2 linked regions of the Homo sapiens genome follow. The protein of the gene in region 1 purifies or fractionates together with the protein of each later gene. This does not show direct contact. Each region holds a gene or a part of one and is shown on either strand. Other genes may lie near its edges. The genes, in order: SMS and KYNU.

The links.
Region 2: the proteins of SMS (region 1) and KYNU fractionate together in Homo sapiens (co-fractionation; 2 studies listed by BioGRID). This does not show direct contact.

What each region holds. Positions count from the first base shown.
Region 1 is NC_000023.11:21,978,709-21,985,708, forward strand, and holds part of SMS (spermine synthase), read left to right. Parts: intron 1-168; coding exon 169-258; intron 259-5,595; coding exon 5,596-5,710; intron 5,711-6,435; coding exon 6,436-6,515; intron 6,516-7,000. UniProt on the Homo sapiens protein: Catalyzes the production of spermine from spermidine and decarboxylated S-adenosylmethionine (dcSAM).
Region 2 is NC_000002.12:143,032,734-143,044,333, reverse strand, and holds part of KYNU (kynureninase), read right to left. Parts: intron 11,099-11,600; coding exon 11,013-11,098; intron 7,199-11,012; coding exon of another isoform or gene 7,163-7,198; exon of another isoform or gene 7,069-7,162; intron 3,907-7,068; coding exon 3,676-3,906; intron 2,288-3,675; coding exon 2,162-2,287; 3' UTR 1-2,161. UniProt on the Homo sapiens protein: Catalyzes the cleavage of L-kynurenine (L-Kyn) and L-3-hydroxykynurenine (L-3OHKyn) into anthranilic acid (AA) and 3-hydroxyanthranilic acid (3-OHAA), respectively. Has a preference for the L-3-hydroxy form. Also has cysteine-conjugate-beta-lyase activity.

The sequences.
Region 1 (7,000 bases):
GAGTGTCCTTAGTGTGAAAATAAAGTCACTGCCTCATTCATCATTTTGTTAAATTTGTGATACCCAAGTTAGTATTATAAAACCTTTGTTTGTCTTAATCCTTTCTTTAAAGTATTACTATTTCAGAATTCTTTGATATACCCAAATTCTCCTTAACCTGTTGCGGACATTGACCAAATGGTGATTGATGGGTGTAAGAAATACATGCGAAAAACGTGTGGCGATGTCTTAGACAATCTTAAAGGAGACTGCTATCAGGTAATTGTTTTCTGGATAATGTAGTTTTAAGTGAACTAATAATATAAGTTATTGATCAGAATTGTGCCTTATTAAAACAGCTTTTAGTATAGTTGGTTGAGAAGATAAATACATCATCTGTCTCTTCATATGAGTTATATGTATATTTGTATTTAGGGTGCACACGTACCAATGATGGGAAAGCACCAACTCCAGATTCTCTGAATTAAATAAAATTAATTCTTTTTTTTTTTATTATACTTTCAGTTCTACGGTACATGTGCAGAATGTACAGGTTTGTTACATAGGTATACACGTGCCATGGTGGTTTGCTGCACCTATGAACCCATCATCTAGGTTTTAAGCCCTGCATGCGTTAGGTATTTCTCCTAATGCTATCCTTCCCCTAGCCCCCTACCCCCGATCGGCCCCGGTGTGTGATGTTCCCCTCCCTGTGTCCATGTGTTCTCATTGTTCAGCTTACACTTAGGAGTGAGAACATGCGGTGTTTGGTTTTCTGTTCTTGTGTTAGTTTGCTGAGAATGATGGTTTCCAGCTTCATCCATGTCCTTGCAGAGGACATGAACTCATTCTTTTTTATGGCTGCATAGTATTCCATGGCATATATGTGCCACATTTTCTTTATCCAGCCTATCCTTAATGGGCATTTGGGTTGGTTCCAAGTCTTTGCTATTGTGAATAGTGCCGCAATAAATATACGTGTGCATGTGTCTTTATAGTAGAATGACTTATAATCCTTTGTATGTATACCCAGTAATGTGATCGCTGGGTCAAATGGTATTTCTAGTCCTAGATCCTTGAGGAATCGCTACGCTGTCTTCTACAATGGTTGAACTAATTTACACTCCCACCAACAGTATAAAAGTGTTCCTATTTCTCCTCATCCTCTCCAGCATCTGTTGCTTCCTGACTTTTTAATGATGGCCATTCTAACTCCAGCTTGGGCTGCAGAGCGAGAATGTCTCAAAAAAAAAAAAAAATCTTAATAAAAAAAAAAACCTTAATAATAATAATAAAAAAGAAACCTTAGTAGTAAAAATCAAGTAGTACACAAAGCTAAAGATTGCTTTTACATATGTACAAAATTTCCAAGTAAAATAATAAGCTAAATCTGGCAAATTAAGTCTATATTATGCTCAAGTAGGATTTAGTTAGAAGTGTAAAGATTTCAATTTTAAGAAATCTGTCAACTTAATTCGTTAGGTGAATAATTTAAAGGAGGAAAATAACAGATGACAAAGAATTTGAGAATATTTAGCAGTCATTTTAAATAAAAACTAATGCAGTATAGCCATGTAAAATTAGCCAGGTGTGGCGGCGTGTGCCTGTAATTCCAGCTACATGGAAGGCTGAGGCAGGAGAATCGCTTGAACCCGGAAGGTGGAGGTTGCAGTGAGCTGAGATTGCACCACTGCACTCCAGCCTGGGCAACAGAGGGAGACTGTCTCCAAAAAAAAAAAAAAATATATATATATATATATATATATTTCCATCTAACAAATCTGTACATGTACTTCCTGAATCTAAAATAAAAGTTAAATTATAAATTACTTGAATAAAATAAAATTGCAATAGAGATGAAACTACCTGAACGTTAATAGAAACTTAGGTTGTGGTAAATAGAAAAATAGAAAATATAATAGATAGCAAAAGCCATTTCCACTGAAAATAGGAAGAAGATGAGGATGCCTATTATCTTTTTCAACATTATTTTTTGAGGTAGCTGAGATAGTAAAGTAGATGAAAACAGTATAAATCTAATTATTTGTAGATGATGTGAATACTAGAAAATCCAGGAAACTTACGTAGGAAATTATTTGAATTAATGAGAATTTGATAAAGTGATTGGATAAAGCCAGCCTAGATTTTTTCTCTATACTAAATGCTAACTCATTTAAATAGGATTTCCTTCCCACCCATTTCCTTTCAAAGTAATCAAGTGTTAAATTCCTAGGAATATATTTAACAAGAATGGTATTGTGAGACTGGTATGAATTATGTTAAGATGTTATTGAAAGACATCAAAGTCTGAATATGTGGAGAGGCATGCTGTATTTCTTGTATTGAAAGAACAGGCCGGGCTTGGTGGCTCACCTGTAATCCCAGCACTTTGGGAGGCCGAGGTGGGTGGATCACTTGAAGTCAGGAGTTGGAGAACAGCCTGGTCAACATGGTGAAATCCTGTCTCTACTAAAAATACAAAAATTAGCCCGACGTGGTGGTGGGTGCTTATAATCCAGCTACTCTGGAGGCTGAGGCAGGAGAATTGCTTGAACCCGGGAGGTGGAGGTTGCAGTGAGCCAAGATTGCACCACTGCACTCCAGCCTGGGTGGCAGAGCAAGACTCCGTCTCAAAAAAAAAAAGGAACAATGTCTATTCTTCCCAATTTATTATGAGTAATCCCAAGGAGGGGGGAGGGGTTTAAAAGTAGACCAACTGATTTTGAAGTTGATTTGTAAAAATAAGTATCTAAGAATACCCAAGAAAACTTGAAAAAAGAATCATAGTGTGAAGCGAAATATGTCCTATTTGTTGTTAATGTACTATAAGGCACGATAATCAAATAGGAAGTATGAAAGGAATACACAAGGACCTAGGAATGTCAAAGGAACTTGAACAGGTCTGAGTATGTATTCCTACACACTGCTAATATGGTCTAAGATACATTTCAGTTGACTTGGGAAAAGCGTTAGTTGAGTTAGTGTGTGATGCCGGTATAAGAAGTTATCCATCTGCATGAGAACCAAGTTAGCTAACAATAGAAATAGGAATTTTGGTGACTTAGGCTCTAAATGTAAAAACTAATACATTTAAGACAATTTAGAGTACTTAACCTTGGAGTTCAGAAATCTCTTAAAGATAGGACACTCAAACTGTTAATGGTATTATAATGTTGTCATTACCAAGCCAAAAGTCAGACTAGAAGAAAGACTAGTAACAAGCATGACAGGGAATTGATCCCTTGAATAATGCAGAGTCCCTACAACTTAGAAATGAAGTTAGCTAAATTTAAAAAGGTATAGAGGATATTTACTGGTACTTCTCAGAATAAGTCAAATAACCTGTAAAAAGTACCACAAGACAGGCCGGGCGCGGTGGCTCACACCTGTAATCCCAGCACTTTGGGAGGCTGAGGTGGGCGGATCACGAGGTCAGGAGATCGAGACCATCCTGGCTAACATAGTGAAACCCCGTCTCCACTAAAAAAATACAAAAAAAAATTAGCTGGGCGTGGTGGCGGGCACCTGTAGTCTCAGCTACTCGGGAGGCTGAGGCAGGAGAATGGCGTGAACCCGGGAGGCAGAGCTTGCAGTGAGCCCAGATCGCATCACTGCACTCCAGCCTGGGCGACAGAGCAAGACTTGTCTCAAAAAAAAAAAAAAAAAAAAGTACCACAAGACGGTCAACCCTGTTGGTGGCCCAGGAAGTTCTTGTGAAAACATTAGCAACAGACTTCACAAAATTTAGTAGAGGGGCAATATCTCATGCTGGGGAGGTTGTGGGGAGACAGGTGCTCATATGCATTGCTGGTTGGCGTGTGAATTGCTATCAAAACCGGAACACACGGCTTCTAGCCGGTGTTTGAGCACACAGCCCACAGTTAAAAAGGTGTCACTACAAGGTTTTATTATAGCTGTGCTTGTAGTGACCAAGGCTTGGCAATGACAACAGAAAGAATGTTTTTAGTGGAATGGTGTATTTTTTAAAATGTGTGTTATTACCTGGAGAGATGTTGGGTGAAATGTTCAAGTTCCAAATGATGTGTGGGATTCAAATTTTACAAAAGAGAACATACATTTGTGTTTGTGTGCAAGTATTCGTAAGAATCTGTGTGAACGTATGGAAAAAATATGAGCATATCAAACAGGATTAATACATGGATTGAAAGCAACGGTGGTGTTAGTACCTCCTATATTTTTCCATAGTTGGACTTGTATGATGCATTGAGGCAAGTTATAAAACAATAGGACAGAAAAGTCCCAGTTTCTTAAAATTATAACTGTGAGGCTATAAGAAGAATGATGAGAAATAACATGGGATAGGTTATCTTAGGGAATTGTGGTGAACTTTTTTTAATTTTTTTTGAGTCAAGGTCTTGCTCTGTCACTCAGGCTGGAGCACAGTGGTGCGCGATGATCATGGCTCACTACAGCCTCAAACTCCCGGGCTCAAGCGATCCTCCCACCTCAACTTCCTGAGTAGCCGGGACTACAGGCAGATACCACTAGGCCCAGCTGATTTTTCTTTTTTTTCTAGAGACGGGCTTTCACCATGTCGCCCAGGCTGCTCTAGTACTCCTGGGCTCCATTGTTCCGCCCACCTCAACTTCCCAAAGTACTGGGATTACAGGTGTTGGGCCACTGACCCCAGCCTGGCAAACTCTTAAACTCTTGGTTTCTGACTATTATATTTAATTTTTCTTTTACTTAATGTATTTTTTTTTTGAATTAGAAAACTAAAAGATGACAGTAACTCCTGTTTAGTTCAGGATGTTGCTTAGATCCAGATGTGTCCCCAGCATAGAGCCTCAGTACTTCAAAGATACAGCCAACCTCAAACTTCTTTTCTGTGTTAACTATATATGATCTGTATGGGAATTCCAGCTGGTCTCTTTATTGACTCTGATGGTGGGAGCTGTTATATATAGCTTTATTAGCAGTAGCCCAAGCGTTAGAGAAAATTGAGAAATAACATGTTAATAGTTTGAGTAAGGTGCAAAAGTGAATCCATAAACAATGAAGTCATTCAGTGCTTAGTATAAAAGAAAAATTAGGCTGGGTACGGTGGCTCATGCCTCTAATCCCAGCACTATGAGAGTCTGAGGTGGGCAGATTGCTTGAGCCCAGGAGTTCAAGACCAGCCTGGGCAACGTAGTGAGACCCTGTCTCTAGAAAAACTTTTTAAAAATAGTTTATTAATTAAAAAAATAAAAATTAAAAGAAGATGATACAGATAGTGATAGGAGAGGCAGTATAGATTAGAGATGAAAGTATGAAGTTGGCTTTCAGATAGTAATAGGTATACTTCGTGGATCTATGGGCAAGCTGGATAACACCTCAAGTTTGTTTCTGCATTGGTAAAATGGGATGATAATAGTGCCTCTAGGATTGTTGTTTTATTGAAATGAGAAGGCATATAAAGCATATATGGTAAGCACTTAATTTTTGCTGTTAACAGACATAGATGAAAGTTTTTTGGTTCCTGTAGCAGTTGCTGTGGATAGCTGTGGATATAAGCCCATACTTGGCGCTTTTTTCCTCCTTCCTTTACTATTGTTTTTTGTTTAACTACATCCACATGTTGGCTCACTCATCTATTCCTGTTCTTTCTGGAAGGTTCTAATAGAAGACTGTATCCCGGTACTGAAGAGGTACGCCAAAGAAGGGAGAGAATTTGATTATGTGATTAATGATTTGACAGCTGTTCCAATCTCCACGTCTCCAGAAGAAGGTAGATTTTTTTAACCAAGATATTTATGATGGAAATGTTTCTCTTGGCACCATGTGAGGGTGAAAGGATCCTAGAGATTGTGTAGTTCTCTCACGTTTTTGAAAAAGGGAGTTAAATTGAGGTCCATGGTGGAAAGATGACTGGATTTGGCTTCAATTCCTGTTCTGCCACTCAATGAGTGAACTAATTCAGTCATTTGAAACAAAAATGAAGTAAAATGACTCATTACATTAATGAGACAGTAAATCATTTGACAATTTATTTAAATTATGTGATTTTCAACCTGTATTGGTACAAACTGGTCACTTATCTAAGCAACGACATAGATAATTCCCTTTCTCAAACCAGATGTTTGTTCCAAATCACAGCTAGTTCGTGTTTTTTTCTATAAACTCAAGTTCCTGCTGAGTTTGCAGGCTCTGAATTTCTCTCAGGATTTTGCTGCTTGCCCCCTTATTTAAAGCAGTTTTCTTTCACGTTTCAGCCACTGCCTTTGTGTCAAATCTATTGGTATTTTGAGAGCGAGCAGTGCTAGGTGGATGTGATTTTGGCATCCAAAATCAATTTCATTATCGTTCATGAACAAGCTCTTTGAATAGTGGGTCTTACACTCGTGGCTCTTTTTCTTTTTCCTCTTTTGGTATTGAGTATTCGAATATTTTACTTCAGATGTTGTGGATACATACAAACCCATATTTATGAAACTTGTTCTTTTAAACATTCAGATTCCACATGGGAGTTTCTCAGACTGATTCTTGACCTCTCAATGAAAGTGTTGAAACAGGATGGGAAATATTTTACACAGGTAGGCTACTTAACAGTTTTTTCCCTCAAAACGCTCTAAGACTTTCCTGTTTTGAAATCTGAATGCACATTTTTGAAATGTATATCTATTAAGGATAGAGCGGCATCATCGGATTATGTTCTTTCAAACAGTAAGCTTCTACGTTGACCTGTTGTCTGTTGGGAATTAATGAGTTATCAGCCCTGGTCTTTCGCTGTAGTATGAGCTGCTGCCACCAGATGGAGACACAGACTGATTTTCTTTTTTCCCCTCCCCTCATCAACATACACTTGATGACAAAGCTCTGGCTGTACTGTGAACTCCTGCCACCAGATGGAAGCAGATTGTGGTGTTTTTCTCATTCTCTAGGGGATTCTAAACTTAAACTTTAAAGATTACATTAATTGGGGTTAAAAATATACATATATATCTCCTATTGAAATCCTTAACAAAATTTTGAAAATGACAGCAAAGACAGCTAATTGATAATCCAGTCTCTTGGTACA
Region 2 (11,600 bases), on another chromosome or scaffold:
ATTATAAATCATTCTACTATAAAGACACATGCACACATATGTTCATTGCAGCACTATTCACAATAGCGAAGACTTGGAACCAACTCAAATGGCCATCAATGATAGACTGGATAAAGAAAATGTGGCACATATATACCATGGAATACTATGCAGCCATAAAAAAGAATGAGTTCATGTCCTTTGCAGGGACATGGATGAAGCTGGAAACCATCATTCTCAGCAAACTAACAGAGGAACAGAAAATCAAACACTGCATGTTCTTACCCATAAGTGAGAGTTGAACAATGAGAACATATGAACACAGGGAGGGGAACATCACACACCAGGTCCTTTTGGGTAGTTGGGGATAAGAGGAGGGTGAGCATTAGGAGAAATACCTGATGTAGATGACGGGTTGATGGGTGCAGCAATCCACCACGGCACATGTATACCTATGTAACAAACCTGCATGTTCTGCACGTGTATCCAAGAACTTAAAGTATAAATATATATATATTTATACTTTATATATATTATACTTTATATATATTTATATAAATATATTAAAATATAAATATATAAATATATAAATATAAATATATATAAAGTATATATATTTATATATATTTTTATATATGTATATGAATCCACTTATGCATGAGTTTTAAGGTTTTGAGAACTCTTCCATCTATGAGGATTAGTTACAGTAGGAAGATTTGCTAAAGCAGTATGTAGCCACTCAATTAAGGGAGATAACATGAGTAATGTAGCACAATACATGGTACATGGTAAGTACATGATAAATATCAGTAGTTACTGGTATTGGTAGGTGTTGATGTTGGAGTTCCACATATTATTGTTTACGTCTACCATCCGAAGTGTTTATCTAAGTTTGTTTATTTCATTCAAACTTGTTTAATTGGAGGCAATAATTATGTCACTCTTTTTGTTGACTATGTATACAAATCTACACTATTTTGTCAACTTATAAATAATGATTGTGGCATCAACAATTGAAAACTAGGTAAGTCCAACAGGGCTAAGTGTAACTTTAGGTTTTTCACAGTGGGTAAGAAAGGTCCATAGATTTGAGATAAAGATGTCAAGAGATGGAGCACATATTTCTTATATCTCTAATCCCCAAAAAGATCTTGGGGTTATTTATTTACTATGGAAACATAGTAATATAATATCTAAGCTCTTATATTAGGGGAAGTTCTCATTTAAAAAGTAAGAGATTATGATAACATTAAAGAAAGAAACATTCTTAAAAAGTGTGAATTAGGGCCCATGAGTGGGTAAGGAAATCAATATAATGAGTTTCCAACATTTCTTATGAGATAAAATAGAATAGTACCTATTAGAGCACAGGCAAATAATTGTAAAAACTTTTATTTTTGCTATTTAGACTATTTTATCAAATAGAAGATGGTAACTGTTTATTTGAGATGCATGCTAATTTCATAGATGGTAACGAGAAAGATGGCCAATGGTGACTGTAAGAAACTATTGATCGAAAATTGAAAGATGGGTCCTCTTTCAAAGATGTTAAAATATGATAAAATATCTTAGAATCAATAATATTTCTCATATATTCACATAAATACTGGTTTCTGATATTACAGATCAGCAGGAGCAATGTGGATTGTACCCAAAAAAATTTGAAAGCCACTATCATATATATATGATATATATATATATATATACACACACACACACACACATATATATATATATATATATATATATATATATATATATATATATATATCAGACTACAATGCTTCAAAGAAACTCCTTGGTAAATTGAAGCTAAAGTAATATTTCTAAATTTGACACAATAATTGCACATACATTATGAAGTTGTCAGTTAAATCAGAAATTAAACCAACATAAAACATTTCAATGACCATGAAATGTGACAGCTTATAGAGACTGTATAGATAATACTTGAACCAACACAGTTTTGGTCCCCCAAACACAAAGCACCTAGGCAGCCCTGTGGACTCCTTAGTGCCACAGACTCTGAAAAATTATATCAGATTTTCTGTAAGGTATATTATTTATTGTTAGTTACATGTGGTCAATGGTGACATACTTTCAATAATTAAAAATCGAATAATACTGAAATAACCACAGCAGCTTTCAGTATAATTTGCTTAAGTTGTTCTAGAAAACACTGCTAATTTTTTGTTTCTGCAGAGTCAAGTATAGAAGTGAGCAGATTGGTAAATTTATAAACATCATGGAAAGAATTATAGAGAGGAACTGGAGCCACTCGAATGCCATTTGGATTCCGCTTGTCACACTGTGGGGAAAAAATAAAGCCACAATAATGTTAGCATTATTCACACGTTGAAAATCTACATTCCAGATAAACTTATGTAAAGCACTTTCATAATGATTTCCCTAAAAATTAATATATATGCAAAATTTTTTTACTTTAAAACATGGTGTTTTTCTGTTTTATGAAACTTTTCTCTTGATAATAATTTAAGAAATAAGAATGGATTGGTGCATAAATAGCCAAGATAGATTCCTGAAATCTATTCAGCAACTATCTTCCTTAAGCATTTAATAGACCATAAATACATTTTGTTTTTTTTTTCCCGTGGGGACCCCATGGAAGGACTGGAATTCTTGGGTGAATTTAAGTGAATGAAAACCTCATTAGGGTCTGGAGAGTTTTAGTAAATTATCCTTGAACTTAATTCTCTAATCTTTGATCTCACAAATAAGAAGTGGGCTACATTGTAGGTCCTGAAGTAGCACCAGATAATTTGACATGCCTAGAGATCACTATGGTTAACTTTAGAAAACACCTGCTATAGGCTAGACAATATAGTATATAGTTTATGTGTGCTGTCCCATTTCAATCCAATCACAACTCTTGGAGGTAATTTATTTTATACCCCAAATACGGATGAAAATTTCAAGCCAATAGATCCTAATGAACTTTCCAAAGAGGACAGAGTTTGACGACAGCAGAGTTTGATTTAGAAACTTGAATTTCTGACTTGTGTCTCCAGCATCTGGGAGTAACCTCTCCTACAGGTAAACATGAGCCAAGCAATGCCTTAATTACATAATCATTGGAAGTAGATACATTATCTTTTTTCCCTGAAATTACTCAGTTCACATTTATTAGTTCTCTTCAAGAGACCAAGAAGGTCATATAGGCTGAAGGGTTAAAAAAAAATTATTCCTTGCAATGTTACCACTCCTGAGAAGTGTATATATATCTTTTTTGACAGAAGTGACAAGGTTGAAAATAACTTAATTTGATCAAGCGACTAAATAAGACTTTCTTTTTTAACCCTTCAATAAATTGGTATGATCTTTAATTCCATTCATCCAATAAATGAATTGTAGTACAGACTAGAGAAAACAATGTCCTGACTGAGTATGATGAAATAATAACTTTTTTCTGCCCAAACTGTTATGAAAAGAATGAGTAAGTTACAAAAAACTATTCCTATAAGCCAAGTTTGTGGTATCTTCTCTTTTATCAGAAACGACAGATCTCTATGCCTTTCAGTTAGCACAGTGCTGAGGGCTTAGTTGGCACTTAATTTATCCTTAATTGACTGACTGATGTGAAATAACATGCAACAATGAATAAACCAAAGAGTCCAAATTTTATCCCTAACATGCGGCCCATAGACAAAATCTGGTAGCAAAGCAAGACATACTTACAACCACTCCTCTTTTTTCTAGTTCTTGGAAAACATCTTTGTTTGGAACAGAAAATGTTATTGTTAGCTGGCACCCCCGCTCCTCTACATGAGACGGAGTAATTATGTTCACAACTGGTTTCTTGGTTGCTGCTTTATCTTTGCCATAGTTATGCTTGATCAGGTATTCCAGATAGCCAGTTAGCAAAACAGATTTTTTCCGCAATGCCTTCATTGTCGCTTGCTTAAAGATCTGTGGAATGAGAAACAATCAGATTAAAGTGTCTTATTGATTTACAAAGAAGCAAAAATTAAGAGTAAATCATGCATAAAAAGGAAATGCCCATATTTGATCTTTCCAATAAATATCTCCCTTTACATAATCTTTTTGTGTAAAATCATGCCCTCCTTTAAATGCTTTGCTATTAAATACTGAAGGTAAAATTTCCATGACAGAAAAATTGTACAAATGTCACTTAAATAAAACTTGCAAAGGAAGAAAATGTAAGTTAATATCATGTACCTGTGGCAGGCCAGGTTTCACTAATGCAGGCCTCCATCACAACTGTTTCAGTACTGACCGAGTGGTTACATTAAATATTAAAAACTAAAAAAGTCAGTGCCCTTATACAAAGGCTGGGATGAACAAAAGCCTATCAAGAGTTTTGCCTAGGCTTTCCCTGGGCCTTAAAGCATGACAGAATAATGAAGGAATTCTTAACAGGACCCATTCAGGATTAAACAAGTTTTACTGTGGTTGTGAAGAAACTCTCCAGGCCTCTACAAACAAGTTTATTGAAGGTCTAAAGGAACTCCTCAAACTTCAGTGATTTAGCAGAAGACAAGATAAGGGTAATCACTCCAGCACCTGGACCCATTTAGATTAAGTAAATTTACTGAGGCTCCAGAGGAAGGTCTTCAGGACTCAGACCTTAGTTGTAGATTAAAAGAAGTTAATCACTTATGTCTTCAGATGAATGCACACTTACACCTGTAAAACTTTGTAATTTTGAGTTGGTCTGGTGATAATTTCCAGGCCTTCTCCCTGTAACCAGTTACAGAAATAAAAACTCTCTTCCTCCCCTGTTCATCTGCATCTTGTTATTGGGCCATGAGAAATAGCAGCCCAACCCTCAATTTGGTCCGGGAACATACCTTCAAAATTATTTTAAATTAAGTTAGTATAATCAAGTAAAACATACCTTAATAAATGGATTTAAATATCATACAATGTAAGCTTTTCCCCAAAACCACTTTTTGAAATCATAATCAAGAAGACTTTTCCAACTTTGATGTAAAGTTTGTTTATCCTCAAAAAAGTGCAATATGATCTAAACATGTGCAAATGTGTAAAGCAGTGTTACTGGTGATATTTATAACTGCTTTACTGACTCCCAAATCTCTTCCAGTTTAACAATAAGAAAACAAGCAGTTAAATAATAATGCTAAGTTTCCTCAGAGAGGAAAGCAAATAATATTAGATAATGCATTTATTTTTACTGAAGCATTTGGGCTTGGTTTCTCTCATTTCCCCCCTTCTAAACTCTAGCACTGGTGTGAAAATACTGCCATTTGTGGGCTGAGATGTCTTATATTAAGATGAGTGACAAGGGCACACAATAACTGGTGTTGGAATATTAGGGGTCAGAACAGATGTGCTTTTCTGGCTTATCTCTTAAGGTCAAGTAGAGTGTAAAAATATATCCTATGTATAAGAACTAAATGAACTGCAAACAGAGCGTGATGCACTGGCCTGCCACTTAATGTTCCTTTTCTGTGTCATGAGCAAAGATATCAAGAGCAAAGATAGGGTCATTTGGTGATATTGAGACTTTATCAAGTCTATGAAAACAGTTATTCCTGTATGTACACGTGGCATGTGTAGGCAGGCACTCTAATAAAACTCAAACCATTCAGCCATAGATTTCCTGGAACTATACTGTATAGAGGCTATGGATTGGCTGAAGGAGAGGCTGGGAACTGTACTGAAGGTAAATGATATCTAAGCAAGAGAGGAAAAACAGGACAGAATGGTGCCTGTCTCTCTCTTCAACCACAACTCCCAGACAATGTCTGAAGTCTACAGAGACAGCTCAAGTAGAGGCTGATATCTTGGCTTCATAAGCTCCCGAGAGAGATCTGCAGTACAAATAATAGTGCTCCAAGATTCAGATGACCCAGGTTACACAGAACTTGGTAGGAGGCATCTCCTTCATTTTCTTGGGCAAAGCAAATGTAGGTAGACTTGGCATAATGAAGACTCAAGGGAACACTGCCAAGTTTTGGGTCAAGGGACAAGAATCAAAATTCTCCCAGAGGAGCAGGGACAGGCAAGGCACGGGCCACAGCTGGTTTGGCTGTGAAGTTTGGAATAAAAAGACTATGTGAGGAATCTTTCCAAGATTCTCTCTGGAGCTTAATAATATTCTAAGAAATTCTAAATAATAAATAATTCTAGGAAATTTTGTGGTTATGCTATGGGTGCCCTAATATGTACATGGGGGCAATCGATATGTGAAGTATCACATTTAATGATAGTTCATTTGTGTGCATAGGTTAGTAAAACTTGGAGGAATATTACTTGCATTTAGTTTTTAAAGGGGCGTAGGGAATGTTGCTCTTGAAGCTTTCTCTTGATAACTAGAAACCAATTTTTTTGGTATGACAAATAGCTTCCATCTTAATATACTGTGGAATGTTAACACTCTTTAAATCATAAAATAACTTTTAAATATAAAACTTACTTTCTCCATTACAACCACAATAAGGGCAACTGCATTCTGAGGCACTTTTAAATTCATCTCACAGAGGGTAAAAGTCTATTCTGAGCTTCACATAAAAATATTGAGAGAGAATAATAGGGAAGTAACATAAATATTCTATTTTCTTTTTTGCTTCTCATAAATGTTATGCTTTCAATATTGAGAAAATAATTTTTTTAAATTAGAAAAAATGAAAACTGTGGTTTGAAAAATATTCAGCTTAGAAGATAATACTTTGCAGAGTTTCAACTACTTGTATTTTTTTTCTTACTGACAAAATGAACACAAAGCTTGAAAAGCTAGATAAGTTTAAACAGGAAAAATAAGTTTGGTGTGATGTTTTCAATTGTCATATTTTTCTCTTAAATTCTTAAAACTGTCTCTCTAGGAAATTTGAAAGGAAACGTATAGTACATTTCTTTGTTGAGTCTTCTGACTCGCCATGTATTTTAATTGAATGCTCTAACTTTGTATTTTGAAGCCATTTATTTCATTATGAATTCAGAATACTGAAAGGGACTAAATATTGTCTACCTATCGCTACACATAAATATGAACCCTCAAAATATAATATACGTATTGTTTAAATTTAAGTATTTTGGAAAGTGAGGAGACTTCCAAAATAATCTTGTCCAAACATCTTACTTTAAAAAATAAGGCAAATACATCCAAAGGGAGTTGTTGCTTGTGTAAGGTCACACTTCGTGTCCATTGAGGGAGAGAGTACTTGCCACCAGGTTCCTGGCCTCAGGCTTCATCCCTTGATCCACAATATTTTAAGAACTATTGTATAAATGATTCAGATAAAAAAATATAAACAAAAGGACAGTTTGAAACTGATTACAATGTGCTATTTTTTATATCAATCAACCATATACACATGTATTTATTAAAAAAAGCCATATTAATATCTTTTTAAAAAGTCATTGCATTAAAAATCTAAGGTCTTATTTATATGTGATTGATTCTTAAGTATAGAATCTCTCCTCCAGTTCGTATTTGACTGTGTTGAATATTTCTTAAAAGTAGAGACAACAAAGAGGCAGTTTGATTCATGCATTTACTTCTTTCGTTTATTGAAACTTCAACCACCTATCTCCTAAAATGGAATAAACTGGTTTAAAAAGATAAGGTGGCTGAGTGCAGTGGTTCACGTCTGTCATCCCAACTGCTTAGGAGTATAAAAAGTAAAGTAGAGGTTCCTCTTCAAAGACTTTCCTTCCCGTCTAATTAGGAATAAATAGTAACTTCTCTTAGAAGCAAAATTTATTCAAAGACCTGTGCTAACATTCTTAAATATCTGCTAGCTGTAATAAATAAATCAATATACTTTATGTTTTTAGCTCCCACAATTTAGCCTAAATATTTGCCCTGGCATGCTTATACTGGTCCAAGCAGCATTAGGTCACAGCCTGTTCCTCTTCCTTATTTAAAAGTGTTTTTACCTTTCTTAGCATTCCACAAGTTACTTCCTCCTTCCTTTGTTACCCTCTACCTTTACGTCTTTTAAAAAGTTCTAAGTTACTAGCCAATCGGGACAAATACAGAATGGGAGGTCCCATTCCAGCCATTGGAACTGGACACAGCAGTAGGGTGGACACGTCAGGTTATAAATGACCCTGTCTCCTTTGTTCGGTGTACTCTCATGGCAAAACTGCTGGCGAGTGTATCCTCTCTGCAGGAAGTAAAAATGGCCTTACTAAATAAATTAAATTTGCGTTCAAGTGCTATTTCTTTATAGCACTGAAAAACAAACATTTCAAACAGGAGACTGAGGCAGGAGAATCGCTTGAGGCCAGGAGTTCCAGATTAACGTGGACAACATAGCCAGACCTCATCTCTAAAAAAATTTAAAAATAAGCTGAGCACAGTGGCATGCCCTGTAGTCTTAGCTACTCAGGAGGACCACTTGCAGCCAGTAGTTCAAGATCAGCCTGGGCAACATGGCAAAATCCTGTCTCTATAAAAAAATACAAAAATTAGTCGGGCATGGTGGTGCACTCTTGTAGTCCCAGCTGCTGTGGAGGCTGAGGTGGGAAGATCAACTGAGTCCAGGAGGCAGAGGTTGCAGTGAGCTGAGATCCCATCACTGCACTCTAGGAGTGACAGAAGGGGACCCTGTCTCAAAAATAAAGAAATAAAATAAATAAATAATAATAATCAGCCAAGTGTGGTGGTGCAGTCCTGCAGTCCCAGTTACCTGGAAGGTGGGGGCAGGAGGATCACTTGAACCCCAGGAGTTTGAGGCCATGCTAAGCCATGATCGTACTATTGCATTCCAGTCTGAACAACAGAGCAAGACCTCATCTCTAAATATAAATAAATAAAACTTAAAGGAAGGTAAGTATTAATAGAAGCATAGTTAATTCACTGATGTTTACTCACATGAGAAACCCATAAATGTCTAGAAAATAAGACATTTTAACAGAGAAAGGGAAGCAATTCAATGCATTAGTTTGTAATTCAAAAATTTTGCAATTTACAGTAGGAAAGAATTTTGAAAAAACACTTTTACCAACATAAGGCTTGATTAACTAAAGATAATTTTGGTTAGAACATAGTCTCAGCAGTGAAATGAGCAGAAAGAGGCTCAAGGGAAATATGTAAGTGATTAGAAGATCCAGAGAAATGCATATCATTCTTCTTGTGGCTTTTAGGGTTTTAAGTTTAGATATTGACTGGGTAACATAGTAAGACTTTATCTGTACAAAAAACTACAAAAATTAGCCTGGTGTAGCGGTGCACACCTGTAGTCCCAGCTACTCAGGAGGCTGAGGTTTAAGTTTAGATATTAAAAAGAAAAAATAAATCAGTTCTCAGATTATAACTGAAAATAAAAACTTTGTCTAGGTGACTCTAATACAGTGTGGTAGGAAAACAGTGGCTGGAAGAATAGGAATGTGCTTCCTTTCCCACAAGAGAAGGGTGAATACTACTAGAAAAGCCAGTCCACTGCAGAAAGTATGCCAAAGTGAAGGCGTCTAAAAGGAAATTTCCAGGTACGTCTGAGAAGTTATTTGCAAAGATATGGGCACCAGAGGAAATTACTTTAGGTACAAGCTCTTCCTAAGGTATGTCCTGGTGCTTCTGATATTGTCACACATCTCGCTGATACAAACTTGCAAGGAATGCAGAAACTTTATTTTGTTTTAAAATGTTTAAACAAAATATTTATCTGAATGGATACTATAAAAACAACTCAAATATCATTATCTGATTTACTAAGCAGATTTTTACTCAAAAAACTGTCAAAAATATATATCACTGGCTGAAAAATCTCGTTACTGTGTCTATTTTCCAAGTTAAAGAAAAATTCTGCCATGAAGTGAAAACAACACAAGCTCCATCTAGTGGTTAAACTGAGTAGGTGCGCTTTAAATTGAGACAGAATGAAATGAGGTGATGATCACTATCCAGTGGTGAAATTTAATAAAAACAGAGGAACTTGATGCTGCCATCCAGTGGCCAGAATGAGAAACTGCTGTAAGTGTTCACAGAATTATGCAATTTTAGATTAGAAGGAATTTTGAATCTTCATCCTGTCACTCATTTGATGCTGAAATCCTCTATAAGTTTTTGCCAAAATATCATAAACTACATGATTTTAGAAGGAGACATGAAAAAATTTCAAATCCTTGTTTGAATAGTTCTATGTAAAACTTCTATTAGAAATATATATGCACATTTACTTAAAATATATTTTACTTAAATATAGGTATACAAAATATACAATTACTTTATATATTTACATTATTTATGTAAATATTTATACATTTACATTATATATGAATTTTATACTATATAACCTATATATTTTTACTTGGCCACATTTAGTCTAACACTAAATAATAGTATCTAAGGAATCACAATTTCATTTTCTTGTTATGTATATTTATCATTTCAGGGTGAGACTAAATTTACCTAAATAAAAATATAAATTAATTTAAAGGAAAATATTGAGTCAGTGATAGTGGAGACTATAAATGGACATAATGGCATAGAAGTCCCAATTTAAAAAAATCATAAAACCACCCTACCTTATGAGACAACCTTATTTAATCTTTGGTTTACTCTGATTATTCTTTTTTCCTTCAAGTAAGTCTTTCCTAGCTTTGTCACATGGTACTTGGTCAGTTCATTCACCTACAATGAACTAGAAAAAGTACAGTCCCTAGTAATCACATCAGGCACACAATATTTTCTCAATAAATTTATGTTGAATGAGCGAATTTATGAAGAACTAAATATTGCATGCTTATTTGGTATAAAGAGAGGCCAAGAGAAGGTTAAATAACTTATTCATGTTTAAACAGATTCTAAGTGGAGTAAAAAACGTATCTCCCCAAAAGAGTTCCATTTAATATTTACTATGTGCCAACAATGTGCCAAGCATTGTGCTGGGGGCTGGTGACATGAATGAAGGGAGACCCTCACCACATCATCACTGTCCTAAAGGGGAATGCTGCCTTCTGTCCCTTGTTCATGCACAGTGCACATGTATCATCTTGCTGTGTAGCAGAGAAAGTACTATGAATTGTCACAAACAGATCAAGAAAAAACGCAAAGATGTGGGAAGGTTGAAACACACATCACTTACCTCTAAACTAGCATGCAAGGAACAGACCAACAAAATGGGAGGATTTGAAATTCGGAATCCACAGACCCCAGGGATTAACTGCAGTTCTGAGAAATTAATATCATGTCATTATCATAGAAGGTAACTTTAAAAGTGTCCATAAAGATACTAGAGTACTGGAGAGTAAAAGAGCAAGACTTAAACTTTTCTTCCTAAGTAGGATTTCTGAGATATTTAAGATAAGCTCCATGGAACTAAAATATCGACGTTATTTCCCGTTTACCAGCAGTTCCCACCTCCCTTGTCCCCAACTTCTTAGCAGAACACCAGAAATCTTAGACCCAAGGTAAAAATGACCTCTTCTGGAAGTTTTTCTGGATCTCATTCTCTGCCTTCCTATTCCCAAGCCAGGATTCCTTATTCTGCTCAACATTTGCTATTCTATTATGAAACCATGTCAATGAGAGAGAGCATCAGCTTTTAGTGGCATGTAATTGTAATGTCTCCCAAAGGCAGAAATATGAATGAAATGACCTATGAAGCTGACTTTTAGCTCTAGGATTGTTAGGTCAAGTGGTTTCTCTTACAGAACACACACAGACACACACA